Linked DNA regions of Homo sapiens: region 2 is linked to region 1. The links come from fine-mapping of genetic effects on gene expression. A gene starts in region 1. The other region holds a variant in brackets. All regions are shown on one strand. Distances are between the middles of the regions.

Region 1 (16,993 bases):
GATTACAGGCATAAGCCACCATGCCTGTCCCAGCTTATCAATTTCTACCAAAAAAAAAAAATTGCCAGAATTTTGCTTGACACTTTTTTTATTCTTTAGGTCAATCCAAGGAAAATTGACTTATTATAACCATATTGAGACTTCTGACTCATGGCTCAATATATTTTTATTAAATAAAAGAAGAATTTTTGAAACGGGTTTTGGAATAATTTTCAGAAGTTCTAGGAAAATTAGAAATATCATGTTTAACTGCTGAAAGAAATCATAGATGACACAAACAAATGAAAACACATCTCATGCTTGGGGTGGGGGGAGGAAATCAATATTGTTAAAATTACCATACTGCCCAAAGCAATCTACAGATTCAATGCAATTCCTATGAAAATACCATCATCATTCTTCACAGAACTAGAAAAAAAATCCTAAAATTCATATGGAACCTGCATAGCCAAAGCAATACAAAGCAAAAAGAACAAATCTGGAGGCATCACATCACCCAACTTCGAACTATACTACAAGGTTATTGTTACCAAAACAGCATGGTACTTGTATAAAAATAGGCACATAGACCAATGGAACAGAATAGAGAACTCAGAAATAAAGCCAAATACTTATAGCCAACTGATCTTTGACACAGCAAACAAAAACATAAAATGGAGAAAGGACACCCTATTCAACAAATGGTGCTGGGATAATTGGCAAGCCACATGTAGGATGATGAAACTGGATCCTCATCTCTTACCTTATACAAAAGCCAACTCAAGATGAATCAACGACTTAAATCTAAGGGCTGAAACCATAAAAATTCTAGAAGACAACATCAGAAAAGCCCTTCTAGACATTGGCTTAGGCAAAGAATTCGTGACCAGGAACCCAAAGCAAATGCAACAAAAACAAAAATAGGTAAATGGGACATAATTAAACCAAAAAGCTTCTGTACAGCAAAAGAAAGAATCAGCAGAGTAAACACATAACCCACAGACTAGGAGAAAATATTCACAAAGCATGAATCTGAGAGAGGACTAATATCCAGAATCTATAAGGAACTCAAACAAATCAGCAAGAAAAGAAATAAATAATCCCATCAAAACGTGGGCAAAGAACATGAATAAATAATTCTCAAAAAAGATATATAAACAGTCAACAAATATATGAAAACATGCTCAACATCACTAATTATCAGGTAAATGCAAATTAAAATTGCAATGAGATACCCCCTTACTTCTGCAAGAATGGCCATAATATGAAAAAGACACTTGCACATGCATGTTTATAGCAGCAAAATTCATAATTGCAAAAATATGGAGCCAACATACCTGCCCATCAATCAATGAGTGGATAAAGAAAATGTGGTATATATACACCATCGAATGTGGTATATATGCACTCAGTCATAAAAAGAAATGAGATAATGTATGTTGCACCAACTTGGATGGAGCTGGAGGCCATTATTCTACATGAAGTAACCCTCAGGAATGAAAAACCAAATAATGTATGTTCTCACTTATAAGTAGGAGCTAAGCTGTGAGAATGCAAAGGCTTAAGAATGATATCATGGGCTTTGGAGACTTGTGGGGAAGGATGGGAGGGGGGTGAGAGATAAAAGACTACACATTGGGTACAGTGTACACTGCTCAGGTGACAGGTGCACCAAAATCTCAGAAATCACCACTAAAGAGTTTATCACTGTAACCAAAAACCACCTGTTCACCAAAAGCTATTGAAATTTTAAAAAGAGATAAAATAAAAATGCATAGTTTAAAAATGTAGATAGTATTCATATGGTTCAAAACTCCAAAATTATAGAAGAATACAGAGCATCCCTCCCACTCTTGCCTCCCAGGAACCCAATTCTCATCCTCCATGATCTGCACATTAAAAGTTTCCCCATTCATTTTTATGGCCCTGGATGTAGGGCCATAAAATGGCTTGTAAGGATGTTCCATAATTTATTTAATCAGTGTCTTAGTGAGGGACATTTAGATTATTTCCAATTCTTTGCCACTACAAAAATTCCACAATAAATAACCTTGTACAATCATAATTTCCTACATGTATGTACATAGCTGAAGAATAAATTCTTTAAAATGAGATTGACACCTCAAAGGGTATAGATATTTATACTTTTGATAGTTACTGCCAAATTGCCATCCAAAGGCAATAGAAAATGTATATTCTCAATTTTTAGATCTTTGTAAATCTCATAGATGAAAAATGTCATCAGAGCACAGTTTTTTATTTCTTTTACTATGAATGAGGTGAGTATATTTTGATATATTTAAGAACAATTTATATTTCTTTGTATGAACTACTTAAATGTTCTTACTTTAGTTTCTTCATTTGTACCTCAGTTTCCTCATAGGGTTGTTGTAAAGATAAAATAATTCGTATGCAGAAATATCAAGAACAGTGCCTAGAACATAATAAGCACCATGTAAGCGGTTACTCTTATTGCCATCATCATCATTTGTTCATATCCTTTATCCATTTTTCTACCGGGTTGTTGATCTGTCCTCCTGTTTTTGTAGAAATTACTGAAGTGTAAGAAGGGTGGCCACATATCACACATCTCAGTTTGTCTGAGAAAGTCCCAATGTATGCCTGTTGTCTTAGCATAATAATTAATAAGGCCCCTGCACACTTTCAAATGGTAGTGATTTGAATGATATGGTCACTTTCAAATGGTAGTGATTTGAATTACATGGTGAAGTAAATTAAAACTGCATTTGGAATCTCCAAAAAAAAGACAAATACATAGAAACAGAGAGTAGAATGGTGGTTACTAGAGGTGGGGATTGGGAACACACAAAGGGGATGGGGAGATGGAGGTAAAAGGGTGCAAAGCTGTAGTTGTATGTAGGATGAATAAGTCTAGAGAGTAAGACTAAAGATCCAATGTATAGCATGAGGACTATAGTTAATAGTATTGCACTGCATGCTGGAAATTTGCTGAGAGAATAGATTTCAGGTGCTTTTAACACACAACGAGGGAAAGGTAACTATGTGAGAAGATGTGTATATTAACTTGCTTGACTGCAGTAACCATTCCACTGTGTATATCAAAACATCATGTGGTCAGGAACAATGACTCATGCCTGTAATCCCATTGCTTTAGGAAAGGCAAGGCAGGGAGGATCCCTTGAGACCAGAAGTTCAAGACCAGCCTGGGCAACACAGCAAGACCCCCATCTCTAAAAAAGAAAAAAAAACTTAATTAGCCAGGCATGGTGACATGCACCTGTGGTCCTAGCTACTCAGGAGGCTGAAGGGGGATGATCACTTGAGCCCAGGAGTTTGAGGTTACAGTGAACTATGATTGCGCTGCTACACTCCAGCCTGGACAACACAGCAAGGCCCTATCTCTAAAAAGAAAAATTTTTTAAAAATAATTAAATATATATAATTTTTAAAAAAGAAATATGTTTATTAAAATATGGTAGTAAATTTTGATCTGGCTTTTCATAAAACATTTATTCTAATTATCTTACAAAAACTTTGGGGGAGAGATAACAGTCAACTTTAGGAATTATATGGAATTATATGGTGATTACTTCATACTTGGACATATAAAACCTTGTAATTTCAGAGCTAATATGGGAATATGTTCTACCTTCAGGAAAAGAAAAAAATGGGAAGTCAGTGACAAACTATTAAAATCTAAAAAGAGACTGATGTACATTTAATAAAAGAAGTGTAAATTTAGCTTCCTGCATTTAGAAAAATTTCACTTTTTCTGGCCCCTTAGAAACAATTTACATGTATACCATTTATTCACATTTGTACTTTCTTAACTTTTTGAAACACTTTCAGTCCGTAATTTCTTTTTATTCACACAACTTTGTGAGGTAGGAATGGTAAGTCGTCATTATCTGACAGCTAGGAAACCAAGGAACCTAGCAGATAGCAGATCACTTCAAGTCACAGAGAAAGCTAGCAAACACTGCTTCTCGATCACCTAATTCTCTTCCAGAATGTCTCAGCACTAGCCACCTCTGTGCAATAAAAAAATACAACTCACTTCAGCGAGTTCAAATAGAAAAGGCATCCCAGATCTCCAGAAGGATCAGAGAGGCAGACTTGGAGACTACGCAGCCCAGATCCCCACATAAGTCGACCCAGCAACTACTCTGGGAAAGACCCATTGCCCCTATTATTTGGCTTATAAAGCAAATGTTAGACACTGGAAGGTAGACCCTTGGGCTTGGTGATCCTAAAAGAACTACACCTCCACTCTCCCTCAACAGGCCAAAAGATTCCCTATGGCTTCTATTTCGTCATTTTGCTCTCTTCCAAATAGACACTTCATTCAGAGACTATGGTTAGCAGAGTCTAGGTCACTTCTCTGAGCCCGCATTCAGAATGTAAGAAATCTCCCAAGGTAAAAATGATGTTTGAAAGGAATGAGTAGACTCAACATGGTAAGGTACATCTCATAAAGCTTTCTCAAAATCAATGTGAGTCATAGAATTACTGTGGTTTGGGGACTGAAAGGGATCTTTCCAATTGCCAGTATTTTATAAATTTTAGGCTGTGATTCATTAGAGGGCCATAAAATCAACGTAGTACACCCTATAGTTTTAAAAAACTAAAAATAGAATGGAAAATACCACCATGCACTGCATTAGTGAAGATAAGTATTGCTTGGTGAAACTTTTGTCCTCATTATATATGTGGGTATAAATTTATATATATATATTTATAATATATATATATGTAGAGTACATATATATATATACATGTAGCGTATATGTCTAAGTGTCCTGTGCCATCAGGTAATATGTATTTCTTACTAGAGTCACAGTAAAAAAAAAATTGAAAAACACTAGTCAAATCCAATCTCTTCATTTTACATTTGACAGAGGATAAATAAGGCTCAGAGAACCTTGCTCTGTTGGTTAATGCAAGGCTGGAATTAGGACACAGAAAATTTTAGTCCTACATTTCATTGTAAGGACATTATCACTTAGAAGAAGTGTACTTCTTTTTTATGTAGATCTATTCCTACATTAGCCCTGTTATGATTATCAGATATATTTCATTAATTAGTATATCACAAAATAGTATGTTTTATAATTGTATTTTGAGGTAAGCATTAATTAATGATTGTCACTTGGTTAACACCAGTCTATTAACTTTTGAAAGATAACAAATCTATGTGTTATTTTGAATACTTTTAATGTTCGCAGTTAAATTATGAATTGCAGGGAAGTCATTGAAATAGTAGTTAAAGACATAAATTTTTAAAGAAAATAACCCTTTTAATTTTTAATCAATAGAAGGATTTTTAAGTTGTAATCTGCCATATTGAATAGAAATATATCACTAAAAATATTTTTCTTGTTAGTTCTCCACTGTTTGTCTCTATCAAAACATTAAATACGGAATTTTCCAAAGAAAGTTTCTATGATTTGAAATAAAATATGAAAAACAAAAGGCTTAACAATTTCTCTATAATGTGCTCAACTAAAGATACATCTACTTTTTAAAATTCTGAATACAAAAAATCATTTAAACTTCATGGATATTTTTATATTCATGGGTAAGAATTTTGGAAACAGTGGTAAATATTTTCAAAATGACATAGATTTTACTTTTCCAGTCCTCATTTTAATTGAATTCCTAAAGATTCTATTTCTAAATAGTCATGAACCAAAGATTTGTCCAGCTTGGAATACAGCTGTATCTTCAATAATAAAGCTGATCAAGTCTTTTTGCACAATTGACATACACTGTTGTTTTAACATTTTTATGTTTTAGAAACAGAAGTTTAATATTAATACTTTTATTATGCAACATTAAAGTCTAATTGCTTTTATGATTTTTATAATAAAGAGGGCCAAAGCAAAGTAGATAATACCAAGTCACTGAAGAATAAAAATAAATAATGCCTTAGATTATTCAAAGAAGCCCAATTTCTTTTTTTTCTTTCTTTCTTTTTTTTGTTTGAGACAGGGTCCCACTCTGTCACCCAGGCTGGAGTACAGCGGCACAATCATGGCTCACTGCAGCCTCGACCTTCTGGTCTCAAGTGATCCTCCCACCTCAGCCTCCCAAAGTGCCTGGATTACAAGTGTGAGCCACCAAATTTGGCCAAGAACCCCAACTTCTATTATGTAGTCTTCTCTCTTCTACAGCAACACTCAAGAGGGTCAGAATGAAATGTACAACACTTTTACAAAGCACACCCAGAATCTACGGGTTACCTCAGTGCCTCATCCCAGATTTTGATATGGATTTTTAAGTTGACTTTTCATCACCCATTAATTTTTTCAAACTCACACTGGGAATAGAACATATTTTATTACTGCAATATGTTGACTCTTTACACCCTTTGTAGGAATTTGTGTTACTTATAAAGAATATAACTGTAAACAAAGATGACAAGGTATTTTTCTCACCAAAAACATTTTTTCTGTACTGAGTGGTTCTTGAACAAAGGAAGCTTACTTGACCTACCTAATGTGTAAGGAATTAGGTACAGAAGCTGGTTAGGTAAGGCAAAGAATGAGGATGAGAAATTTACTTATCAGGGGTTTAGAGCGGTCATTAGAAAAGCCTCTACTTCCCAGACTGGTTTGTCCTGCTCAGTGAAGAGTGTTTTATTCCAACATCCTCTTTCCCTAACAGGCATTTAAAATAATGAGAGAATTTTTTAAAACAAGATATTTACAGTAAATAAAAACCTGTCACCACAAAGTGGGGAAAGTTGCTGACATTTTCCTGGGCATAGGATATGCTCATTGAATATGGCACCAAGCCTGCTTCCTTCAGTGAATCCATTTTATCAGCAATTAGGACTGTTGTTTCACTTAAATGGAGAATTCCATTATGACTCCTCAGCAACCTTAACAGATAGAAAGCTTTTTGTAATATTGCTAACTACACAGGAGGAAAGTAGTTATAAACTCCCTTTTGTGCTGTGGTGGATAGTCAGTGGAAAAAAAATCACCTTAAAATATTTCTCAGGACATGTTGGCCTATACCTCATTTGAATTCACGCATCTTTAAAATAAAATCTGTGCCTGGCGCCGTGGCTCACGCCTGTAATCCCAGCACTTTGGGAGGCCAAGGTGGGTGGATCACCTGAGGTCGGGAGTTTGAGACTGGCCTGACCAATATGGAGAAACCCCGTCTCTACTATAAATACAGAATTAGCCGGGCATGGTGGCGCATGCCTGTAATCCCACCTACTCGGGAGGCTGAGGCAGGAGAATCGTTTGAACCTAGGAGGCGGAGGTTGCAGTGAGCCGAGAATGCGCCACTGCACTCCAGCCTGGGCAACAAGAGTGAAACTCCATCTCAAAATAAAATAAAATAAAATAAAATAAAATAAAATAAAATAAATCTTATTTTTATTTTTAAAATAAAATCTTTATTTTATAATAAAAAATTTAAAATTTTTTAAATGAAAATTTTAAATAAAACATTTTTTAAATAAAAAATTTAAAGAAAATAAAAAGATTTCATTTTCTTTAAAATAAAATCTGGCTGTCCAATTGTTATTTCTTCGGTTGCTTTTCAAGAAAGTGTGAAGTCAAAAAGTAATTTTAAAAGGTAGGACTCTTCAATCTGCTTGAACAACAACAACTAGATAGTCTTAAATAAGTTCCTTTTATTTATTCTTACGTTGGTATTTTAAGTTAAATATTATACCAATAAGAATAGCTAGTTACGAAACAGCAGGAAATTCCACATATTTATTTAAAAAATAGACATGTTTTTAAAATCTCATTAATGACTTTGTAAATTGTAATACCTACCTTTGGTAAGGGTGCAATGAAATAAACACCCATAGGTACTAGTGGACATGGCATAAACTGCTACTATCTTTCAGAAAAGGCAATTTCATAATATACATCAAAACCCTAACATGTTTGACCCTTTGCTTCAGAAATTGAACTTTTAGGAATTTAGCCTGATGGAATGTATAATTAAAGAAATGGACAAATACTTGTGTGCAAATGTGTTTGTCATGACATTATCTGTAATACAAAAAAGCTGGAAAAAACATAAATCTACAATAACTGGGAATTGGTTAATGAAATAGTAGGCTATTCATACAATAGATTGCCACATAGGCATCAAGAAATATCCTATTTGAAATTAGTATATACAAACAAAGAAAAAATGTTAAGTTGTTATCTCTCAGTCCAGATGTCTTATTTTCTTTACTCTTTTCTGTATTTTCCAAATTTCCTTCAGTGAACATCTTCAGTTAAGAGGCCTTAAAAGTTCATTTGCTAGTATTATGCTGAAAAGTTCTTTTTTAAAAAATAAAACTACAGTTCAGCACAAGTGAAATTTAATGCTCTTTTTACTATCATTGTATCTTTCGAATATCTGCACCATTATTTGCCTTCCATATGTATTAAAATATGGAAAGAGCCAAAAGAGACATGTAATTCAAGCTCCCCTTTCTTCCCAAATGAAATTCCCCCAAATAAGACCACCATATTTTCAATTTATTAGGCACTTCCGCTTAACTTCTCTTCATAATTATAAGGAGTTCTTTTGAAGTTTATATGTCCTTGTCTTTGTGTTTGATCTGTCTCTTCACTGTGCTGTAGGGACACATCTTCCGCCTTTAAATTCCATCAATCTCCCTTCACCTCCCGCTTCTCCTGTGTCCTAGACAGTGTGTATAATTCTTTGCTCTTCAGCGTATTCAATATAAAGAAGGTAGCATATAAAACAGTTACATAATGCAAGCTTTATTCGTAGTTAGAAAATCATTATCAAAATGTTACCATTGCAATCATTTCCATAGACTGTCACGTAACCAACACCTGCAATGGGGAAGTGGTACACAATCCAACACAACTCATTAGGGGCTCTCAGTCTATTCAATCTCTGACACTCCAGCAGCCTCAGTACCACTTCAGGAGCCAATGCAGTCTACCTCTCTCCAGAGAGCAGTGTTCCACCTTTCTGGGACAGAAGTCAACAATCGCGTTCCCCAAGAGATGGAAAAGAAGTGGAGGAGGGTGAACAGGTTACCAAACCCACTTAGATACACTCCGCATAGACTAACTCTCCAAATTAAAGGACAGGAGGTCACCTGAGCTGACCATAAAAGCTCAGAGTGCTGATGCGAATAAGATCAGGGAAGGCTGCTTATTAACACCGTGGTCACTACAAAAGTTCTTGAGGGCATCTGCTGTGAGTTTTCCATCGTTCCTTATTGTCCTCCTGCATCTCCTGTTGCTTTTCTTGGCCCTCTCCTTTTCGCATTTTCTATGTCCTTTGCCCAGCAGTAGTACTGCAGGCATAAACCATTGTCGACCTGAGAATTAAATTAGCATTTGGTAGCCAGACCTCTCCTTGAGCCTTAGAATGCTTGTGTGCTTGAGGTCCCTGAAGTGTAACGTCATCTCAAAGCGCAAGTAACTAAAGGGAACCTACATGTGACAAGGTGCAGCGGAGGTTCAAGCAGAGCACCCTGGCCGCATCGCAACAGATTATAAAGTGTAGGGGATGAAAATGATGGAAGACATCAGAAAGCCGAGCTGTAAAAAAGCCCAAACTAAGCAAACTGAGACGCGCAAGCGCGTTGCTCACAGCTCGTCTCCCGAGGCCGAGCCACAGCGCCTGCGCACAGAATCCGGGGAGGGTGGGGAAGAGATGAGCACCCAGGCCTGGAGCTCCCACTGCCTCAGCCTCCCTATCCCCGCAAGCTCCGCCTCCTCCAGCTGCTCGCCTTCCCAAACAACCGGGTTCGCCGCCGGCGCTTTCTGCCCATTGGCCCTTAGCCTTTTCCGTTTCCGCCCAGCCCTCAAAATCCACCAATCAGTTTGCACTTTTGGGTGAGGGTCCACCTCCAAGGCTGTCGCTCCGGTTCCTCTGCCTCCTCTGGCTGCTGCCTCCGCAGCTCCCTCCTCCTACCCCACCTCCTCCATCTGGGGAGCGTCTGCGGGGGCCTGAGGGGCGGCGGCGGCGGCGGCGGCTGCGATATGGAGCCAGGGGCCGGCGGCCGAAATACTGCTCGTGCGCAGAGGGCCGGGTCCCCGAACACTCCGCCGCCCCGGGAGCAGGAGCGGAAACTGGAGCAGGAGAAGCTCTCCGGTGTGGTGAAGAGCGTCCACCGGCGGCTCCGCAAGAAGTACCGAGAAGGTAAACAGCGCGCTGAGTGAGGGAGGAAGGGGAGGCCTCATCACCCCCAACCGCTTGTCACCTCTTCCCTCCTCCAAAGAGGCCACCATTAAAATGTAAAGGATCTGCACGTCCCCCCAGCCGCTGCTGCTCTCCCGGGCCTGGTCTGAGCCCCCTAGTCGGCATCAGACGCGCTCCTCCCCGCCCCCTTTTCTTTGAGGGCCCTTCGGGAGAGTTCTAGGCCTGTAAAGGAATTGAGTCCCCACCCCCTCCAAGCCCCTGTCCCCAGCCGGGGTGCTGAGGTTGTTGTCTCGGCACACACAAACACATACACGCTCACAGAGGAGGTGGGGGTCGCTTTTTGCAAGAGACGCCGAGGTAAAACAAGACAGGTAAAATCCATTTGTAAAAGACGAAAAGAAACCTGAGTTGTCCCTCCTTTACGCTTGACCTACCGGCTGTACCATTTGCTTCCTTATCAGACCCCCTTCCTAGTACTTCATTCCTACAACCATGCCGAGCCTTCCTCGCATTGGCTTCCAGGGCTGGGAAGCCAGCAGGCCTTTTAGCTGACTGGACTTCACATTGTTAAAAGGGGGCGGGCTACACTCGTGGCCCCCACTCCCATTTCTTAAATACTTGGTCTTAACTGTTTATTTAGGCGATGAGGAAGAGATCTGGGCAGGTTCTGAAAATACCGTTTGTATTGGAAGCCTCCTAAAGACACCTGCCGATAAAGCCCACCCTCGGCTTCCATGGATGGGGTTCCGGTGAGAACCCCCTCTGTGGAAGCTCATAGGGGAAGAAGCCTTAGTGGCTTTTGCCTGTGCCTGAAGAGTGTTTATAGTTGGAGTCTACAGTTATCCTTGATATCTTTAAATATAGGCTTTTGTACACAGCTGTTTTATAAGATTTTGACAGTGAAAATTCTGTTTTCATAGGCTTGGGAGAGAGACTTCTCCTGAGTATCGAAATGAGGAAAGCTTTCCACTGGTTCTCATTTTAGCTTAATTGCAAACTGAAAAGTCAGCAGCCTTCTGGTGTTAGTCCTATACTTAGTTAATAATTTAGGATTAGAAGGAAAATTATGGCAGTGAAGGAATACAGACAGGTAAGATCATGTTACTGTTGATTTATACACACGTTTCAACTACTCTAGAAAGTTAAAACTAAGTATCCTTTGTTCTTTTGAATGTAGTTGATATGTTTCATTTTTCAAACTTTAAAGGTTTCTTTCCTTAGCAAATCAAGCTTAGCTTTTAATAGAGGCTGTTTAATCATCCCCAAATGGGGCTTGTAGTTATTGTTTAACAGATAGCAATAGAAAGAGTCTTATCAGACCTACTTAGGATGGTAAAATATGTTTTTTGAAAGAATGCTACCCAAACCCACAATTTAGTCAATAAAATGAGTAGTTACCATAGCAACAACTGCATCATTCTTGATATTCAAAGAATGCTCTTACATAATGGAATTCACTGTAGATTTTATGTTATTTGGAGAGATTAGGAAATAAATGGACACATTTTCCTGCAATTTATCCTGCTATTTTGTACAAATTTAAGTGCATCTTTCTAAAGAGAAAAATGACTAGCATAGAATTCCATTTCTATTTTTACCTTTTAATAATTTCATTATTCATTTATTCATAAATGAATAGGTTCCACTCAAATTAACACACTAATGTGGCATCTCTTCAAGTGCTGTTTATATGTGCTTAGTTCCCACATGTTTAACCATGTTTTAAGCCTGAGTATTAACCACAGGAACTCTTGTTTATGAGAATCGGAAGTTACCAGATCTAGAATAGATACATGGAGTTCATAAGTGAATGATCTAGTATGCTTCTGGGGAGTTAAAGTCCTGGCAGTTTAAACATTTGAATGAGACTATTCTTTAGGCGCTTTAATACCCTGAATTTCACCGGTGATCTAGACTTCTCTAGGCTTTGCTTGAATGATATACAAAGCCCCATCAGTGAATTAGCAGAATAAGTGATCCTAATGAGCATGCTCCTTCTACCTTTATTTCTGACATATAGGCTAAATATTAGTAGTAAAAAAGTCATCTGTGAAAAACTCTGTGCACATAATAATACTAAGGAAATAATTTTTAGTGTTTTACTTTGAGGACTTAGTATTGTGCTGATGGTCCCCAGTCTGTAAACATATTTTACAAGTTCATTTGCAAGTCAGCTGTTATTGTAATCTGAAGATTGCTTAAGTGCTAGATCAGTCTGCAAAGGCCCATTGAATCAATAACATACCTGAACTATAGCACCAATAACTATGGAAACTGTACCCCTTTTATCACAATTCTTCTACCAGCAAATGCAGTGAAAATTCCAGCTTAGGATCTTGGAGTTTTAGACTAGAAGGAACCTCTTAGCATTTAGCAGTGATTCCCAAACATGGCTGATCAGCAGATTCAACTGGGTGCCTCTTAGACAATTCCTGTATTCTACCTCAGATCTATAGTTTAAGATCCCTATTATTAGGAACTGGAAATTGTCAGCCAGATATTAGAGTGGTGATCTAATAGCTTCTTCATTTTACAGATAAGTGAGCGGAGTCCTAAAAATATTAAAATAACTTTCTTGATGCTTTGGTAGTTCATTATTAATACTATACATATTTTATGGGAATAATATAGGTTCCCCACCCCCAACTCCAAACCTAATATTAGTGACTCCAAATGTTAGAATAGGAGGGAAAATGAGAAGCAGGAAGTGGCCCTAGAATTTCCATTAGGTGAAAAGTTATAAATTGATGGGAATGGATGATCCATAGGATAGGTATGATTAGCTGAGTTGGGGCTATACAAGGTGAGGGTTTTTTGGGGAGAGATGGCAGGGAAGGAAATAAGTTAGGGTAGAATAAGGAGGCAAAACAGCCATTGAATATTAAGGACAGGATAGATAGTGACTGGGAGGTTGGAGAACAGAGCCTTCTTTTCCCTTATCTCTATTAGTGGAATTGAAAATAAAACAGGAAAAACAATGAAAATAAGTTGTGTTGTTCTTTTTTGCTGTGATAAGAAAAGATTTTTTTCCACTCTTCTCCAACCATTTGCCCAACTGATGCTAGTTGATGGTGATGAACAGGCTTGGGGTGGGGAAGGGTGAACAGGGTTGTAAAGAGTAGCAGGTAGGCTTAATGCACTCTTTTCGTTTACCACTTTTTCCTTCCCCAGTTTATGGCCTGCCTTGTTTCACCACTTAAGAGATGCTGTGCCAATTTGTCTAAAGGTAAAGTGAGAACTGGAGATAAAGGTGTGTTCCAGGCAGCACTCGTATCTGAAGCAGTTACTAAAAAGAAATGGTAGGGAGATGCCTAGCAGTGGTGATGCGAAGGGGTATTTCTGGTGTCTGCCATTGATAGTTAAGAGACAGTCTTTTAAAGTGAGGTTATATTCATAAGATATTCATAAGATAGGTTTTTCACTATCTAGTGAATAGATCCATATTTATAAATGGAAATATGCTTGCACATATAGGTGTTTTCTGTCTTTGCATACATAATTTTTAAAATTTGACCTCCATGTAAACCAAAAATATTTTAAATGTATAAGAGTTATAGACAGCTTTTTAATTAAAAAAACTAGTTTCGCTTTTCAAACAGGGACTTCATTATTTAATTAGATGAGCCTGACAAATATGTATCAAATCAAGAACTGAAGTAGAGCCATGTGTGTTTTTGGTTGTCTTTGTATGATTTTTTTTTTCCATAATCGTATTCACATGAACCCATTCCTGTAATGATTGCTTTTATGCCTGGCATTTCTCTTTCTAAACTTAAAGCGTTTATGTAAAAATTCCAAGAAAATGTAAAAGGCTGCAGTTGTCAGGAGTAAAAGTACACTTTTCATTCCATTTCGTTTTTATTTTTTTAACCTATCTTATGAATATCTTTGGGACATTTTATCAAATTATTCAATCCCTGAATTTACTTGTTCTGCATACCAAACAGATTTAAAACAGTTTATCACATAAACACCTGCAGCTTATAAATCAATCACAAAAAAAAGTAAAAGTATGTACTAAACTGTTAAAAGAGGTATTCTTAAAGTCATGGAATTAGGGGGTGATCTTAACAGGTGAATTAGCATGGCAGTGTAGGATAAGCTGAAAAATATATTTGTGATTGACTATTCTTCAGCAAACACTTAAAATGAGAATTGTGGGGGAAGGGGAAAAACTTTTGTATTAAAATAATTTTAAACCAAAAAGGCTAAAAATAAGAGAATGAATGTGATGTTGGTGTTTTTCCAGAAACAAAGTTTTGAAGTTGTTTTAAAAATTAGAATGAGACTCCTTTTAATTGAACTTTTCTTATTTTTTTTCCTCAGTGGGCTTTAAACACAGCTGCTTTAAAATTTTGACCAAGTCCAAGACCTTAAGAAACTTTGAACAGATTCTTTTCTCAAGTGAGGTTTTGCTGTTTTCTTTTTGTGTTCTTCTTATACTTATTCTGATATAGAATCAGAAAGCTTTTTGTGATAGAATATTTGCCTGATCATTGAAATAAATAAGGTGAAGGTTGTCACAGAAGGTCCTGTTAAGTTTGCACTAGGAGAGTTTGAACTGCCATTCCCAACAGAAGAAAAATAATGAAAAGAGTTCAGTAATCAGTAATAGTAAAAGATAAAGGGACCATTTATATAGTCAGTTCAATGAAGGGCATGTAGGTATACAATGTACATTAGTGTTTAGCTATTTGATTTTGTTATTATTAGTGTTCTTTGTGACAAGGTATCGTTTTAGGGGCTTTTTGCAGTTGAAAAGATACACTAGAAACCAAAAGCATTGTTGCAGATTCCTTGATTGTTTAATGGAAAATAAACCCACTAACATAGCGGTTCTTAGCCTTGGTTCCACATCAGTATAATCTTTGGAACTTTGTGGAACACAGACATCTGTATATATAAAAGCTCCCAGAGTACACAGTGGACAAAGAGGTTCAGAAACACAGCTATTGTAGTAGGAGGAATCTAGGAGAAAGGAGGCTTTTATACTAACCTGATCTAAAGTTAATAATAGCTTAAATAACAGTAGTGATGATGAAAATAGAAGAAGACAGACTTTGAAGATCAGAATAGGCAGTTTCAGTGAAAATAAAGAAGGGTCAAAGATGATGCCAATATTTCTTTCCCGGGAAAATGTAGATAGCTATTAGCATACACTTTGGAAATGGTAGGAGTTGGAGGCAAGAGGAACAGGGTAGTCAGGCAGATTGGCTTGTTATAGGGATAATGGTAATGATTTAGTTTGCAATCTATCCTTTGGAAGTTTAGGATTTGGAAGCCCTCTGTGGAGGCTGAATCTTTGAGGCAAGTAAACTGCACAGTGGGGTTGTAATATAGAACTGAGGACAGATCCTTGGAACACACCAGTAGTTAGAGTTTGGAAGAAGAAAAGTGGAACCATCACAGAACACAGGGAGTACTCCCAGGGATCGGGTGTCTGCTGTGCTGGGTACCAACACAGTAGTAGAACTGTATCTGCCGCCATTTATGCTTCATTTACAGTAGAGTGAAGGTGTTCATAGTGACAGCCTAAAGTCCTCAAGAAAACGTAAAATTATGTTTACTATAATATTTCTTAAGAAAATATTGATTTGCTTTGATTTTCAAAGAGTCCCAGTCTTTCAAAATCAAACAAATCAGTATTTTCAGTTGGTTTTGGTGCATTTGTTTTCTTTAATAAGTATATATCATGTTTGCAGCTTTAAAGCGTCTAAGGCCATGGTTCTTAAAACGTTAGTTGGCTCCAGAATCTTCCAGTGAACTTTTTAAAATGCTGATTCTTAGGTCCCCAGAAAGCAATTTGGTGGATCTGAGATTTGGGGCCCAGGAATCTGCATATTTAATGTCCCTCATGTGATTCTAATTCAGGTGATCATTGGAACACTTTTTGAGAAAACATTGAACTAAGATTTTTCTGTTGCAAAGAAAAGCAGGGTACTTTACTAAAGGATGTGCTCGTCCTGGGAGTTCAAATTGTTTTTCACATTCATTCCTTCCTCATATGTGCCTATGAAATATTTATTTCTGTCATAAAAATACAGTATACAGAGTGAAACATCAGTTGAGATAACTGAATGAGTTAATGATTTTTCAATAATAGGTAGTCTCGCTGCACCACTGTGTAAGGAGCTACTTGTTTTTAAGGCACACTTTAAGAAGTTGTCTTTAAATTTCTTCATTGATAGTTTTGACACATTTTTATATTAGTTTTCTATCTTTTGGTAGCCATTTCTATAGTGTCTAAATAAGTCAGGCACATTTGTCACATAGTTCCTATTATAATCATATCTTCTTCAGTATTTTTGTTAATTTCCTAGAGCAATCTCATACATTGTTCACATTTGACGATTAAGTGGAGACTTTGCTGTTTTATCATACAGTACTTTTGGAGCTCCTGTTTTTACTAGTCCTTGCTAATTAGCAAAAGCAGCAGGATCCCTACCCTCCTTAAGTAACAAAAATAATAGAGATGTTAACCGTAGCTATTCTGTCTTTATGTCTTCAGGGTAGCATTAAGGATTGGATGGCTCCTGGGCATTATCCCTGCCCCTCTTCCTTCCCCCACCAATTCAAGTAAAATTTTCTAAAATGTTCCTCTTTAAATCAGAAGTACTGTTGTACTGGAAGTTTAGCAGCATAATGTTTTTAACAACTTTAAATCTAGATTATTAAGGATTATGGTTTAGAGTCCGATCTTCAGGCCTCTTTTGAAATGACCTCTTCGTGGTTGGTCTTTTAGGCCAGTTTATTGTAATGTAAACTCTTGAAACAAAGATCTGGGTTTTTATTAATCATCACAAACCCCATCCCCACAAACACAGTTGTGTACAGCACCTAGCACAGAATCCTACATAAGTAAGTGCCCCTACCTAAGTGCCCC
Region 2 (16,993 bases), 120 kb after region 1:
GAGAAAACTACATGAGACTAGATAAGGTACTGTCCAAAAGGCTTAGAGATTACAGTGGCCAGCAGTCACACAGAGAAGTATTAATATTGTACCTGTTCCCATCAGCCATACTGGAGCATTCAAGATTCACAGACATTTAATAGAGTACACAGAGAAGGGTCTTACCTCAATAATGGAGAATAATTTGCCTTAGACTAAATACTAGTGCTCTAGTCCCATGTAACAAATCTTAAAAGTAAGACCCAAAAACTTCAGATTGTCTCCAGGTTTCTTAACTACATCCCAGAACACAGTTCAGGAATATTTATAGCAATCCATAGTTATGTAGAACCCACCAAGGTAAAATTCACCATGTCTAGCATCCAAAAAAAATTACAGCCATGCAAAGCAGCAAGAAAATAGGACCCACAGTGAGGAGATAAATCAGCCAACAATGACCAACCCTGAACTGACACAGAAACAGGGACATTAAAATAGAGATAATACCAGTTTGGGAAAATTACTTAAGCTAAACTTTTACACAGTTTATATTCTTTCCTTATATGTGTTATGCTTCAATACAGTTTTATTATTTAAAAAAATCAAAACTGTATAAAAAGCTAAGTAGAAATAGGAAGATATTTTAAAATACCCAAATCTATCTTCTAAAGACAGATACTATAATGTGTGATGTGAAGATGCATACTGGATAGGATTAATGCATATTAGATGTTGCAGAAGGAAAGGGAAATTGAAGATACAACAATAGCAGCTATCCAAAATGAAACAGAAAATTTTTTAAATAGAAGAGCATCAGTGATACAAATCTAAGCAACTAAATATAAGCATAATTGGAATCCCCCAAAAGGTGGGGGATTTGAAAAAATGGCCAAAAACTTTCCAATTTAATTAAAGCTTTAAACTCACAAATTCAAAGAAGCCCAACAAACCCCAAACAAAAGAAACATCAAGAAAATTACACCAAGGAACATCAAATCAAACTTCTAAAACTAGTGATAAAATCTTAAAAGCTCCCAGAAATTGTAAAGACACCTTAAAGTACTGAAGGAAAAAGTCACCTAGAATTTTATACCCAGCCAAAATGTCTTTCAAAAATGAAGATGAAATCGATTTTCTTCAGATGTGTAAAAGCTGAAATTCAATATTAGCAAGCTTGTATTATAAGAAATGTTAAGGTGGAAGTGCTTTAGCCAGTTAGAAATATGGCTCTACACAAAGGAATGAAGAATACTAGAAGTGATAACTATACAGCTAAAAAGATTTTCTCTTGTTGTTTAAACTCTTTAAAGATAATTTACCATTGTTTCGGGTTGAATTATGTCAACCTAAAACAGATATGTTGGAGTTCTAACTCTAAAGATGTGACTTTATTTGAAGATAGGAGCTTTACAGAGGTAATCAAATTAAACAGGGGTGATTACAGTGGCCCCTAGTCCAATAAGACTCTGGTATACTTATAAAAAGGAGAAATTTTAACTCAGAAACAAGCACACAGGGAGAACGTCACATGAAGATGAACACAGAGATTGGAGAGATGCATCTATAAACCAAAGACCACCAAAGATTGCCAGCAAACCACTAGAGGCAAGGCAAGAGGCATTGATTAGATTCTCCCTCACAGCCCTCAAAAGGAAGAAATCTTCCCACAATCTTGACCTCAGACTTCTAAGCCTCCAGAACTATGAGAAAATTTATATTGTTTAAGCCACCCAGTTCATGGTACTTTGTTACAACAGCACTAGCAAACTAATACAACAACTTAAGCAAAAATAATGATATAGAGTGGGGTTTTTAATATAGATAAAATGAACATTTATGACAGTAGCATAAAGGGTGACATGAGAGAATCAGAAATATACTTGGCCCTCCATATACTTGGATTCCACATCTGTGGATGCAGTCAACCACAGATCAAAAATATTTGCGGCAGGGCATGGTGGCTTACACCTGTAATATCCCAGCACTTTGGGAGGCCAATGCAGAAGGACTGCTTGAGCCCAGGAGCTTGAGACCAGCCTATGCAACACAGCAAGACCCCATCTCTACAAAAAATAAAAAAGTTAGCCACGCATGGTGCACTTGTAGTCCCAGCTGCTCAGGAGACAGATGGGAGGATCGCTTGAGCCCTGGAGGTTGAGGCTGCAGTGATCCAAGATTGTGCCACTGCACTCCAGCCTGGGCAACAGAGGGAGACCCTGTCTCAATAAATAAAAATAACAATACAACAATAAAAATAATATAGCATAACAACTATTTACATAACATTACATTGCATTACATATTATAAGTAATCTAGAGATGACTTAAAATATATGGGAGGATATGCATAGGGTGTATGCAAATATACCATTTTATATAAAGGACTTGAACGTGGATTTGGGTATGTACAGTGGTTCCTGGAACCAGTCCACTGTGATAATATTAGTACTTTGAGGTTCTTATACATTAAGTGGTGTAATATCACTTGAAGGTAGACTGATAAGTTAAAGCAACTGCTGAAATAAAAGAGTTATACCTAATCAGCCAACAAGGCTAATAAAATCATAAAAAATTTAGTTAATTCAAAAGATGAAGGAAGAGGGGAAGGGAACAACAATCAAGTGAGACAAGTAGAAAATAAATAGCAAGATTATAGATTTAAAACCTAATCACATCAATCAACACATTAAATAGAAATGGCCTAAATGCCCCAATTGAAAGGCAAAGACTGGCAGATTGGGGGAAAAAAGCCAAGACCCAAATATATGTTGCCCATAAGAAATGTACTTCAATTATTAAGACACAAATAGAGTGAAAGCAATAAGATGGAGAAAAGAAAGCTGGCATGGCTACATTAAAATTAGACAAAGTATATTTCAGAGCAAAGAATATGATCAGGGATAAAAATGACATTCCATAATGATTAAAGGGTCAGTTCATCAAGAGTACATAACAATCCTAAACCAAACTTGGTCTATGCACCTAATAACAAAGCTTCCAAATATGTAAACCAAAAACTGATAAACTGTCAAGGAAACATAAACATTGATAAAATTATAGAGATTTCAGCACCCCTCTAAATAATTCCTAGAACAGGTATACTGAACACTTGGCGAAGAATTCACAATGGAAATTAGAACTTTTTTGAAATAAAAATACAAGATATCAAAATGCATAGATGTCACTAAAGTCACAAAAGTAGTACTTAGGGGAAAATTATAGCACTAAACACCTTTATTAGGTAACAGTCTCAAAGCAATGACATCAACTTTTCAACTAGAAGAAAAAAGAAGAGCAGTAAATCCAAAAGGAAATAATGATCAGAGCAGAAATCAAATGAAATAGAAAACTTTCAGAAAAATAGGGAAAATTAATGAAAGCAAAAGCTAGTTCTTTGAGTAGATGAATAAAATTTATAAACTCTAGCCTACTGATCAGAAGTAAAGAGAAAAAGGTAACATCATGACAGATTTTACCAACATTAAAAGTATAAGAAAATATTTTGAACAACTTTATGCCAATAAATTCGACAATTCAAATGGACCAATTCCTTGAAAGACATAACCACCAAAGCTTATTCATGAAGAAACAGATAAGATGAATGGCCCTAAATCTATTGAAGAAATTATGAATTGGCAGTTTAAAACCTTCCCACAAAGAAAATTCCAGGCACTAACGCCTGCATGTTAAAATTTACCAAATATTTACAGAAGAAATAATACCAATTATATATATTCTCTTCCATAAAATTGAAATGGATGGAATACTTCCCAACTCATTCTATGAGGCCATTACTCTGGTATCAAAATCAGACAAATGTTATAAAACAAAACTACAGATCCATATCCCTTATGAATATAGATACAGATGTTCTATACAAAATTTCAGCAAATTGAATCCAACAAGGTATTTTAAAAGGATAATATATAATGGCCAAGTTTGGTTTATCTCAGGAATGCAAGCTTGGTTTAAAATTCAAAAACAATCTATCGTATGAACTCAAAAAGAAAAAGTCATTTGATCATTTCAGTAGGCACAGAAAAGGCATTTGACAAAGCTTTGACAAAATTCAACATCTGGACTTTCCTGATTTAAAAAAAAAAAAAAAACTCAGAATTTAAGGGAATTTCTTGAACCTGATAAAGGGTATCTGAAAAATCTCCAGCTAACATCATCCTTAATGGTGAAAGAAAAATGCTTTTCTCACAAAAACAAGATAAGGATGTTTACTCTTACAGCTTCTATTTAGCATTTGTACTAGAGGTTCTAACAATTCAGTAAAGCAAGAAAAAGCAATAAGCAGCATGCACATTGGAAAGAAGTAAAACTGTATTCACAGGTGTCATCGATCATCTATTTGATTTTTCTGTGTAATCTTCAAAGAAGCTCCTAAAACTAACAAATGAGTTTAGCAAGGTTGCAAGAGACAAGATCAATATACAGAAATTTGTGTGTATATACTAGCAGCAACCAATCAGAAATTTTAACTAAAAACAGTACCATACTCTGGCATCAAAAATATGAAATGTTTATTTTATATGTGAGTATATATGAAATATGTAGCTCATAAATCTGACAAAAGTAGAAAAATCCACATGCTGCAAACCACAAATTAGGAGAAAGTAAAGATGACCTAAGGTGGGTGCAGTGGCTCACACCTGTAACCGCAGCATTTTGGGAGGCCTAGGCAAGTGGATTGTTGGAGTCCAAAAGTTCGAGACCATCCTGGGCAATGTGGCAAAAACCTGTCTCTACAAAAAAAAAAATAGAAAAATTAGCCAGATGTGGTGGCACTCGCCTGTGGTCCCAGCTACTCAGGAGCCTGAGGTGGGAAGATTGCTTGAGCCCAGAGGGTGGAGGTTGCAGTGAGCTAAGATCACACCACTGTACTCCAGCCTAGGTGACAGAGTGAGACCCTGTCTGTATAGAGTCAGTGCAGTCCTCATCAAAACTCTTGTGGGCTTTTTTGTAGAAATTGAAAAACTTACTCTAAAATCTGTGTGGAAATTCAAAGGACCTAGAATAATAGCTCAAAACAACTTTGAAGGACAGTGTTGGAGAGTAACACTACCTGATTTCAAAATTATAAAGCTACAGTATTCAAGACAGCATGGTATTGATGTTCAGGAATATCAGTGAAATATAATAGATGGTTCACAAATAAGCCCAAACTTACGTACGTGATTTTTGCCCAAGATGGAAAGCATAGTCTTTTCCACAATGGTGTTGAAACAAAGGGGTATCCATATACAAAAGAAGAAACTTCAAACCATACCACACTCCATATAAAAAAAAAGACCTTGGCTGGGTGTGGTGGATCATGCCTGTAATCCCAGCACTTTGGGAGGCCAAGGTGGGCGGATCACAAGATCAGCAGTTCGAGACCAGCCTGGCCAATATGGTGAAACCCTGTCTCTACAAAAAATACAAAAATTAGCCAGGCATGGTGGTGCGTGCCTGTAGTCCCAGCTACTCAGGAGAGTCTGAGGCAGGAGAATCACTTGAACCCAGGAGGCGGAGGTTGCGGTGAGCCAAGATCACGCTACTGCACTCCAGTCTGGGCAACAGAGTGAGACTCCATCTCAAAAAAACAAAAAAACAAACAAACAAAAAAAACTCAAAATGTATCATAGACCTAAATGAAAAAGCCATAAACTATAAAACTACTAAAGGAAAACATTTTGAAAAAAAGTCTTTATGACCTTGGGATAGGAAAAGACTTTTTAGACCTGACTTTGAAAGCAACATCTAAGAAAGAACAAATTGATAAATTAGTCTTCATCAAAATTTAAAACTTCAGCTCTTCAAAGGACACTGTTAAAAGAATGAAAAGATAAGCCACATGATACTGAGAAAATATTTTCAAGTCATATATCATAAAGGACTTGCATCAAGAATAAAGAACTCTCAAAACCCAGAAAGAAAATACTTAAAACTTTATTTAAAGCAACCCAATTATTTTTAAATGGGCAAAATATTTGAACAGACACTTTAACATAGAAGATATCTGGATGGCAAATAAGTCCGGGAAAAGATGATAAATGTCACTAACTCATTAGGAAAATGCAGATTAAAACTGAAATACCACTACACATCTATTACAATTACTAAAATGAAATAGACTAGCTATACCAAGAGTTGATAAGGATTTGGAGGAACTGGAACTCTCACATACTCCTGGTGGGAACATGAAACTACATAACCACTTTTGAAATCAGTTGGGAGTTATTTAAAAATTAAACCTACTACACCACCTACTGTATGATCTAGCCACCCAAGATATTTCCCCAAGACAAATTAAAGAATGTTGATTCAAACACATGTATGGGAATACTCACAGCAGCTTGAAATGTAATAACCAAAACTAGAAACAACCCAGATATCCATAAACAGGTGTATATGGATAAACCAACTGTGGTACATCCTTGATACAATGGGATACCATTCTGCAATTTAAAAAGGAATAAACTATTAATACCTGCAAGAAAAATCTCAAAATGATTATTTATATAAAATTCTAGGAAATACAAACTTCAATGGTTGCCTGCTGGCAGGGGAAGAGAAGGAAGGGACTATAAAGGGGAATAAGGAAAATTATGGGGTGTTGGATCTGTTCATTAATTCGACCATGCCAGTGGTTTCATGAGTGTAAAAATACCTCACAACTTATCAGACTTATGCTTTTTGTCACTTATACATCAATAAAGCTGCCTTTAAGAAAAAGGGAAGAAGAAAAGCATCTTTTTTTCAGGTACTAGAACATTGCATATCACTTTTCCTAATAAACAGTCCAGATGACTATGTGGCCGGCTTGTATATACACTAACATGAGTGAGGGATTAAGGTATTAGGTCATATCTTTGTTAATAACTATTGGTATATGATAGAGTTATTTTTGTCTAATTTTAAAATTGCTTATTCTGATTCATTTCCATAGTTTTAAGATTTAGCAAATTATATAATGTTATTCATTCCTCTGTTGTATTGTTTCCCATGGTCATTTGTCTAACTAAATCTAGTTTGTTCCAAACTAGGGATTAACTTTTTAATAGAATAAAAGTAATGTTGAGGGTTACTTTTTAAATGGTTAAAGTTAACAGTTTCAAAGAACTAAAGTTTTGGAATCATTCTGCTTGTACAAATTTTATAATGCCTCTTTCATTATCCTCTTTATTTGATTCATCTTTATTTCATGGTATTTCTTGTTTAGCATTTTTATATTAGTTTGTTTTTGGTAACTGTAAATGTTAAAGTGAATGTAAATAGAAATGTCATTCCTGTAAACTCCTACCCAAATTAAAATTCATGTAAGTCCCAACCCAAAATACACAAATTATTTCCCATTTTAAATTGTTAGGCAAAAAACATATATTTAAATGATGATTAGCAGGTCTTTGGACTTAATTACTTTGAGATTTTTGTAAAAGTTGTGGTTGAATACATCTGTTCAAGTTTAATAATTTAAAAGGAAAAATGTATAATCAATGCTGGAATTACTATGATATGTGAAATGGTTTGCTGAAAAGTCTATGTACTAAAGTGGAAATAATCTTGAAGTTCTTAATATGCCTTGTTTTCTGTTTCTGCAGAGTGTCTATAAATGTGATTTCCTGAACTTACAGCTTCAGCAACCACTCCAGCTTGCACAGGATGCTATAGATGCTTTTTTGAAGCAGCTGAAAAACCCTATTGATTCTCTTCCTGGAGAGCTTTTCCATGTGGTTGTTTTCTCTCTCCTTCTTTCTTATTTTCCATCTCCTTACCAGCGATGGATTTGCTGCAAGAAAGCCCATGAACTGTTAGTGTTAAATGGTTTATTACTAATCATCACACCTGATTCCTCCCATCAGAACCGTCATGCTATGATGATGAAAAGCTGGAAGATTGCTATAGAGTCCCTGGGCTTTAAACGCTTCAAGTACTCAAAATTTTCACATATGCATCTGATGGCATTTAGGAAAATCTCTCTAAAAACCACAAGTGACTTGGTTAGTAGGAACTACCCAGGAATGTTATATATTCCTCAAGATTTCAACAGTATAGAAGATGAGGAATATTCTAACCCTTCCTGCTATGTTCGATCAGATATAGAAGATGAACAACTAGCATATGGTTTCACAGAACTCCCTGATGCGCCATATGACTCAGATTCTGGAGAAAGTCAAGCCAGCTCTATTCCTTTCTATGAGCTAGAAGACCCCATATTACTTTTAAGTTAATATAGAAGCAAAAAGCCCCTTTCAGTCCAGGCTCCTAAACTAATTGCTTACACCAATTGGAAATACTAACATGAACTCAGTACTGAAAACCTGGTTTGCATAAAAGAAATGCAGAGGTTTACAGAGTTTGCTATTTTTTTCTACTTCTCAATTTTAAAATTTATTCTTATATAGAAAGCTTAAAGTTTCATGCAGAGTGACTCATGTCATAGCAGAAACTACTGTTACTTTAGCATTTAGCACTATCATAGAAAGGTACCTTTTTCTCTTTAGTGCTATTGTGAAAACAAGCATAATTTGCTATATGTTTTCCTTTTCAACTTTTCAGTGTTGACTATAAACCATTGAATGGAAAACTTTAAGATGTAGAAAGCTGTAGATTGCACTTTGATGACTCACAAGTTAAATGTGATACAGAAAAATAGATCGGTTAGTTGTTTTGTGATGCACTTATCTTTTTCTTTTTTCTAACTAAAATTGTGATGTTACAGAAAGTCATTTTATGTTCCTTTTTTGTCTGATGATCCAATATTTACTGAACTTTTTGTAATTGGTGATAATTCTTTTTATTTCTTCCTTATATTAAAAGCTCATTTGACAGCATCAGACATTGGGGGAGAGATGTCCCCCAAAGTGTGTATTCTAATTTTATTAGCCCTATCCAATAAACACCATTGCCAAAGTAGTATTTTCATAACTTTCTTGTTGATTTGGGCCTTGGTGTGAAGTATATTTACCTGAGAGTTCACTTTTACTTTTCTTAAACTTAGGCTTCATTTACAAAATGTTTTATTTAAGCAAGGAACAATGTAATACTCAATAATGACCTAAAACACCTTTTTGAAAGGGTTTGCACTTGGAAGAGAGTTTATGTTCTGTTGAAACCAACTTTGATAGGGTCCTCACCTTTCCGTTAAGGAGGTGCCGCACTACAAGTTTCAAATTATATGGAAAAACCTAAAATTAACCCTCTGTTGGTGATCTCATAAAATGGTTTTGACCTTTTGGTATCTTAATTTCTATCTAAACTTTATCAGAAAATTTTCTTTGAATATATCAATTAGTTGGCTGTGGGAATTTTCCCTTTCCACATTAATAAATGCCTTTCTGTGTTTCTGAATCAGAAGCAAATGATTAGGGAAAAATATATGTCCAAACAAGACAAGATTAGTTTAAACAGTTAAGAACATTTAGTCCACATTGTCTTGTCAGCCAGCAATTGTCATGGAAGCTATCATTTTTAAGAGTGCCACTGTGTGGATTTTTTTTTCAAGTGGTTATTACATTAAAATTACCTCATACTGAGGTTTTTGCACTGAAATATCACAGTTTCAGATTTCATGGTTAATGTTGTGCGTATGTTTGTATGTTTTTAAAGGAAACTTGCATTTTCAATAGTTGATCCTAAATTTCATAAACTGCACTTCTTTACTCTGGTAAAGCTGATGTTTTTGTGCTTATTGTGAATTGCCGTAGTACCTTTGAATGTCAAACTTTATTTAGAAATATAAAACTTATCCTTTATGATATAAATGGTTGAGTGTATGTACCCAGTATTTCTAATTAAATTTCACATGCTAAATTAATGAAAGTAACAAGATTGTAATTTTTTAAAGTCAGTTGATTAAATGCAATAAATATTGGTTGCTCAAATATGCCACAAATAACTCGAAATTTTTCATTTACTTTCAACAGCATAAGATTCTTTAATATTTAGGATTGACTGTTCTTTCCAGTTAAGCACTGAAGGATTATGTCTTGTAGCTTCCCCAAGAGAAGGGGAAGGAAAAAAAAGCACTATGTTAAGGATAATACAGAACTCTTTTGAACTATTTTGGTAGTACCTTTTACCATACTGTTTGCTTTTTGATTTGGGTAAATATCTTAAGAGCAAAGAAAACAATACACCAAATGAAAATGCTTTGAAAGTAAATGAAAACAGCGCTTTTGAAAGGCTGGTATAGTATGACCCTGGAGTCAGCCTTTGTGTTACAGCGAAAATGTTGGTGCTATAAATTCTGATTGTTTACAGATGTTGATTCTGCTTATGCTCCAAAGTGTGCATGATGTATTTTACGTAGTACTCTGAGGAAGTCTCTTTATAAAACCTACTACCACTTAGTATAAATTTGTTTGAATTTATATC[A/T]TTTGTTACTGTAAATTCAGCTTATTCCAATTAGGTTGGCACAGATTTAAACTGATACACATTCCACAAAAACCAATTCAGTGTATAAGTATTGAAGTATAAGCAGTCATTGCAGCTTGATGCCAGATCATGTATGTAATAACAAGTGGAAGTTAATAGGGCCTTCTAATACTGTATGGGTACTCCTAAGAATTATTTCATTTTGGATATAAAGAAGTTATGAGGCCTCCTGTCACATTCACAGCTGGTTCTCCAAAATAATTTGGTTGTTTCAAAAACAAATGGTAATCATTTGGTTGGATTCTTCAGTATCATGACTAGATCATGTGGTTTTACCATAGTTGCCAAGTGGTGGGAGGTAGCATACCTGAAAATGTACGTGTGTGTTTGTTGTATTTTTTCACATTTTGTGAACAAAGCACATTTATTAAAAATTTTAAATTTTCTAGTATTCTTTGTCTGTTACTTGTAAACCGAAAGTTCTGTGGTCTTTGATGTATCTCACTAAGTGATTTCAGCATTGGGAAGCAATTTAGAACTTGAGTGACTTGTACAATTTTCCCACTGGGTTTCATTTTTGTTAAATCCCTTAATGTCATAAATTTATTCACTGAGATCCAGAGAACTCAGGTGACTTCCCATTGTCATGTTTTGTCATGTTTATGGCAGAAGCAGGGCAACAGCATAAATTCTACTTTATTGTATGTCAACCATATCATATTCTTTTTTTTTTTTTAAGTAAGCTACATAATTTATCAGCTCTTTCAGGACAGCAGATGTCTTCCTCATGATATGAAAGGTTTTTTGTTGTTGTTGTTTATTAAACAAATGTTTGAATTCTGCCATGTGCTATATGCTGGGAAAGCAGCAAGGATTGGAGTGATCATTGTCCCCTGCTCTCATGGAGCTTATGACCTAAGAGTGAAGACAAGCATGCTACATGTACTTAGTATCTGTATCCAAGAATGATTACCTGCTGATGCTACAGTTTTGCCCCTGCTTAAAATCCTTAATTCACAGAAGTAGAACAGGAAATAAGAAAAGCTTTAAACACAAAACTAGCAAATTACACATTGTGGATAAGAGAGATGTATTGTTCATTCCTCTAGGAAAGTATAACCTAAATATAAATTCTGATGTAAAAGCAGAAAAAAAAATGGATTCAAGCTTTTTGTTCCGTTTTCCCACACTTTCTGAGCACTATGCAGCAATGCTATTCCTCTGCAAGAGTCCACACACTAGGTCAGCAGAAATGTAAATCAAAGATTTGGTTCCTTCTTGGTTTTGTAAATTGCTTGTTAAATGATAACAAAGGTAGAAAACAAATTCTTTGTTACAAAAAAAAAAAAAAAACCCATAATACAAACATTTACTACAAGGAATGTTTGTATTATAATAACTTTATTCTTAAAAAAAACTGAATTGCCATAACCATGATAGTATGATAATTCATGTTAAAGTCATATCCATGAGCTACTGTGAATGCAAAGCTCCCGAAGTATATTAGTGGTGGCCTATATATATACACACTACAAAACCCAGTGAACAAGCAGGCTACAATAGCTAACAATTTAAAGATCTCTAAATGCGTAAAAGGAGATACGCTGGTTTTTCTAAACCCTGTTTTTCTCTTGGCAGAGAAATGGAAATCTCAACAATTGGAAAGCCTTTTAAATGTACCTTAAACTTTGGTTTGTATGCTTTTTTCTAAATTTGTTTCAGAATCTCAGTAGTTTTCTGGGTGGCTCATGCCTGTAATCCCAACAGTTTGGGAGGCCGAGGTGGGTGGATTGCTTGAGGTCAAGAGTTCGAGATCAGCTTAGCCAACATGATGAAACTCCATGTCTACTAAAAATACAAAACGTAGCCAGGCATGGCAGCATGTGACTGTAATCCCAGCTACTCAGGAAGCTGAGGCACAAGAATCGCACGAACCTGGAAGGCGGAGGTTGCAGTGAGCTGAGATCACACCACTGCACTCCAGCCTGGGTGACAGCTAGGTCTCAAAAAAGGAAAATAACCATCTCAGTAGTTTCTAAATTAGTATGCATCTATTTTTTTAAATGAGAATCTTGTTACATATGGCACTATAGAGTATGAACTTTTAGTAATTATGAGTTAAGCAGTTCAACTTATTTTGAATTTTATTTTCAACCATAACACCTTTGCTAAGTTATGAGAAAGCTAGTCTGCTTTTTGTGATAGTATAAAATATTTATTGTCAATGGTTGTTTTTAGTAATCATAAATGATAGCTAAAACTATTTTGCATCATAAATTTTTAAGTTTGGGCCCATCAGTAGTATCAAAGATGGTACTTCTTTCTATGGTTTTTAAGTTAAAGGAAAACTACAAAAAATTAGACCATAGGCATTGACTGCAGAATTGTTTCTTGAATTTGTCATTAATAATTTGAAAGCTGTAAAACAAATCTATTGATGGATTGGAATGCCCATGTAAACCATAAAAATGGCAGGGAGCATTACCCCAAAAAAAGGAAACAGTATTTTCTAGATCCAGCCCTGTTTGCAACTCTTTAGGAAGAAAATGCGAGAAAATATACTTGCATCCTTTTATTGCATATATCCAAGTAAACTATTCGTAGTGTCCTGATGACAGTATTTCTTCTGTAGCCCTTTGAACTGGTGTGGGAAATCAGCTACTGAGAAGAATATGATTTGTGGTCACAGATACTCTATGTGAAGCTATAATAGAATCCACATTTAAGTTGTTTACATTTACATTCATCCCTAGCCCTACAAATCCTTTTTACAGTTAGCTAATGCCACTCTAGCTATGCCTGTTGTCTTCTACAAGGAAAAAGAATACGAACATGACCATGGCCAATATTAATTTCCTTCTCCCTTAAACTCCTGTTCTATAATGCATCTCTGGATAATAGAGTTTGCATTGACAGGCTAAAACATGAAAGAATAATGAAGTCAGGAAAAAATGGTTTCCAAATTGCCACACATATTTTCAATAGAAATCCAAGCAATAACATGTTTCCTAAAGCTAGGCATGGATGAAACATTCCTTGGAAATAAATGGGTGATTACTGGAAGAAGGAAAAATCTTTGAGACTGTCTGCAAGAAGAAAGATGCTTAAGACAGAAAGAGGGCCTAACAGCTTAACTAACTGTATAATGAGCTTTATATTCTCTGGCTCCACTGAATCATTACCACGGATTAAAGTACTGGAGTACAGTGTGTTGGAAGTAGAACAGGGACTTGGGAATTTGGAAGTAAGAAGACATATTTTGATAGGAAAGTGGAATGGTCTGGAGCTTGTGACCAGAAAAGGTGAGGGCAGGTGGGGGGAGGGGAGGGCAGTGGGGAAGACCCTGTGGGCCTAGGGAATGGTGCCAGTTGGAATGAAGAGATACAGAATGGGAGTCAGGATGTCACAAACCATCCCTTTAGTCTTACGGTTAAATGAACTGCTAACATCAATTCTATAACTGAGAAAGTTCCAACAAATTATTTATAATAAAATGAACAGGCTGGGTGTGGTAGCTCACACCTGTAATCCCAGCACTTTGAGATGCCAAGGTAGGCGGATCGCTTGAGCCCAGGAGCTCAAGACCAGCCTGGCAATATAGTGAGACATCATCTGTACACAAAAATTTTAAAAATCAGCCAGGCGCAGTGGCATGCACTTGTAGTCCTCGCTACTCGGGAGGCTGAGGCACAAAGATCATCTGAGCCTGGGAGGCGGAGGTTGCAGTGAGCCAAGATTAGACCAACGGACTCCAGCCTGGGCAACAGACTAAGAGCTTGTCTGAGAAAAAAAGAAAGACAAACATTTTCCTCCCTAAAATTTATCAAATTTTAACATCACGCTATAGAAGATAGTATTATAAGTAAATATAGGTTAATAGTAATACTTCTGTGAGATACTGTGTAATACATTTTCCCACAGAATGTGAAGCATAAAATTCAAAAGAAAGCAAGCACAGCTCTTGTGACAAACCACTTTATATAGAGTATTACCTAAGACATTATGTACTTGGAGTTGTCTTGAGTAAATGAATTTTCACTGATCTAGTAGGCCTTGTGGTTCCCTTTTTATTTATTATTTTCTTTTTATTATTATTATTATTATACCTTAAGTTTTAGGGTACATGTGCACAACGTGCAGGTTTGTTACATATATATACATGTGCCATGTTGGTGTGCTGCATGCATTAACTCGTCATTTAACATTAGGTATATCTACTAATGCTATCCCTTCTGATGGGATGTATCTCAAAATAATAAGAGCTATTTATGACAAACCCACAGCCAATATCATACTGAATGGGCAAAAACTGGAAGCATTCCCTTTGAAAACTGGCACAAGACACGGATACCCTCTCTCACCACTCCTATTCAACATAGTGTTGGAAGTTCTGACCGGGGCAATCAGGCAGGAGAAAGAAAGGGTATTCACTTAGGAAAAGAGGAAGTCAAATTGTCCCTGTTTGCAGATGACATGATTGTATATCTAGAAAACCCCATTGTCTCAGCCCAAAATCTCCTTAAGCTGATAAACAACTTCAGCAAAGTCTCAGGATACAAAATCAATGTGCAAAATCACAAGCATTCTTATACACCAATAACAGACAAACAGCCAAATCATGAGTGAACTCCCATTCACAATTGCTTCAAAGAGAATAAAATACCTAGGAATCCAACTTACAAGGGATGTGAAGGACCTCTTCAAGGAGAGCTACAAACCACTGCTCAATGAAATAAAAGATACAAACAAATGGAAGAACATTCCATGCTCATGGGTAGGAAGAATCAATATTGTGAAAATGGCCATACTGCCCAAGGTAATTTATAGATTTGATGCCATCCCCGTCAAGCTACCAATGACTTTCTTCACAGAATTGGAAAAAGCTACTTTAAAGTTCATATGGAACCAAAAAAGAGCCCACATTGCCAAGTCAATCCTAAGCCAAAAGAACAAGGCTGGAGGCATCATGCTACCTGACTTCAAACTATACTACAAGGCTACAGTAACCAAAACAGCATGGTACTGGTACAAAAACAGAGATATAGACTAATGGAACAGAACAGAGCCCTCAGAAATAATGCCACATATCTACAACTATCTGATCTTTGACAAACCTGACAAAGACAAGAAATGGGGAAAGGATTCCCTATTTAATAAATGGTGCTGGGAAAACTGGCTAGCCATATGTGGAAAGCTGAAACTGGATCCCTTCCTTACACCTTATACAAAAATTAATTCAAGATGGATTAAAGATTTAAATGTTAGACCTAAAACCATAAAAACTCTAGAAGAAAACCTAGGCAATACCATTTAGGACATAGGCAAGGACTTCATGTCTAAAATACCAAAAGCAATGGCAACAAAAGCCAAAATTGACAAATGGGATCTAATTAAACTAAAGAGCTTCTGCACAGCAAAAGAAACTACCATCAGAGTGAACAGACTACCTACAGAATGGGAGAAAATTTTTGCAATATACTCATCTGACAAAGGGATAATATCCAGAATCTACAAAGAACTCAAACAAATTTACAAGAAAAAAACAACCCCATCAAAAAGTGGGCGAAGGATATGAACAGACACTTCTCAAAAGAAGACATTTATGCAGCCAAAAGACACATGAGAAAATGCTCATCATCACTGGCCATCAGAGAAATGCAAATCAAAACCACAATGAGATACCATCTCATACCAGTTAGAATGGTGATCATTAAAAAGTCAGGAAACAACAGGTGCTGGAGAGGATGTGGAGAAATAGGAACAATTTTACACCGTTGGTGGGACTGTAAACTAGTTCAACCATTGTGGAAGACAGTGTGGCGATTCCTCAGGGATCTAGAACTAGAAATACCATTTGACCCAGCCATCCCATTACTGGGTATATACCCAAAGGATTATAAAACATGCTGCTATAAAGACACATGCACACGTATGTTTATTGCGGCACTATTCACAATAGCAAAGACTTGGAACCAACCCAAATGTCCAACAATGATAGACTGGATTAAGAAAATGTGGCACATATACACCATGGAATGCTATGCAGCCATAAAAAATGATGAGTTCATGTCCTTTGTAGGGACATGGATGAAGCTGGAAACCATCATTCTCAGCAAACTATTGAAAGGACAAAAAACCAAACACCACATATTCTCACTCATAGGTGGGAATTGAACAATGAGAACACATGGACACATGGACACAGGAAGGGGAACATCACACACTGTGGTTCCCTTTTCATAACTGTGAGGACTATTTGTGGGATAACTAGCTCAGGTTAGATGTCATTTGTGGCAATAACATAGTTAACTAGTCTACACCAATCAATATTGATTCACTAGTTGAGAATTTCTGTGCTATGGCACTGGATTAGGTACTAGAAGGAGCAGATGTCTGCTCTGCTCTTCAGGGGCTGACAGTGGAAACTTAAATACACTAGCATTAATACAAGGCAAAAAATAAAAACAAACATTACAGAAAACATTCTTGCACTGCAGCATCTGGTGGTACATATAAATGAAACCTGTTCACTTGACTTTTATGACACACTGTTCTTAACCCATCTAGAGGCAATTTACTTTAATATGGATACCCCTTATCATAAAGGGGCCAAATGTAAATGATGCAGCCCCTCCGTACCTCTCCAATG

What was found.
Region 2: its variant is fine-mapped to the expression of SAMTOR in whole blood (TOPMed, PIP 0.91).

What each region holds. Positions count from the first base shown.
Region 1 is chr7:112,932,708-112,949,700 of GRCh38, reverse strand. SAMTOR (S-adenosylmethionine sensor upstream of mTORC1) reads left to right here and starts at 9,826. Exons shown (of 5, transcript NM_152556.3): 1 at 9,826-10,110. The coding sequence starts at 9,951. RefSeq lists enhancers at 9,358-9,697, 9,352-9,868 and a silencer at 9,898-9,997.
Region 2 is chr7:112,812,949-112,829,941 of GRCh38, reverse strand. It overlaps SAMTOR (S-adenosylmethionine sensor upstream of mTORC1), which reads left to right. Exons shown (of 5, transcript NM_152556.3): 5 at 7,569-10,795. The coding sequence ends at 8,198. Among named protein-coding and RNA genes, the nearest start is that of TMEM168, 31 kb to the right of the region's middle. The variant A/T (reference allele first, on the strand shown) is at 10,345.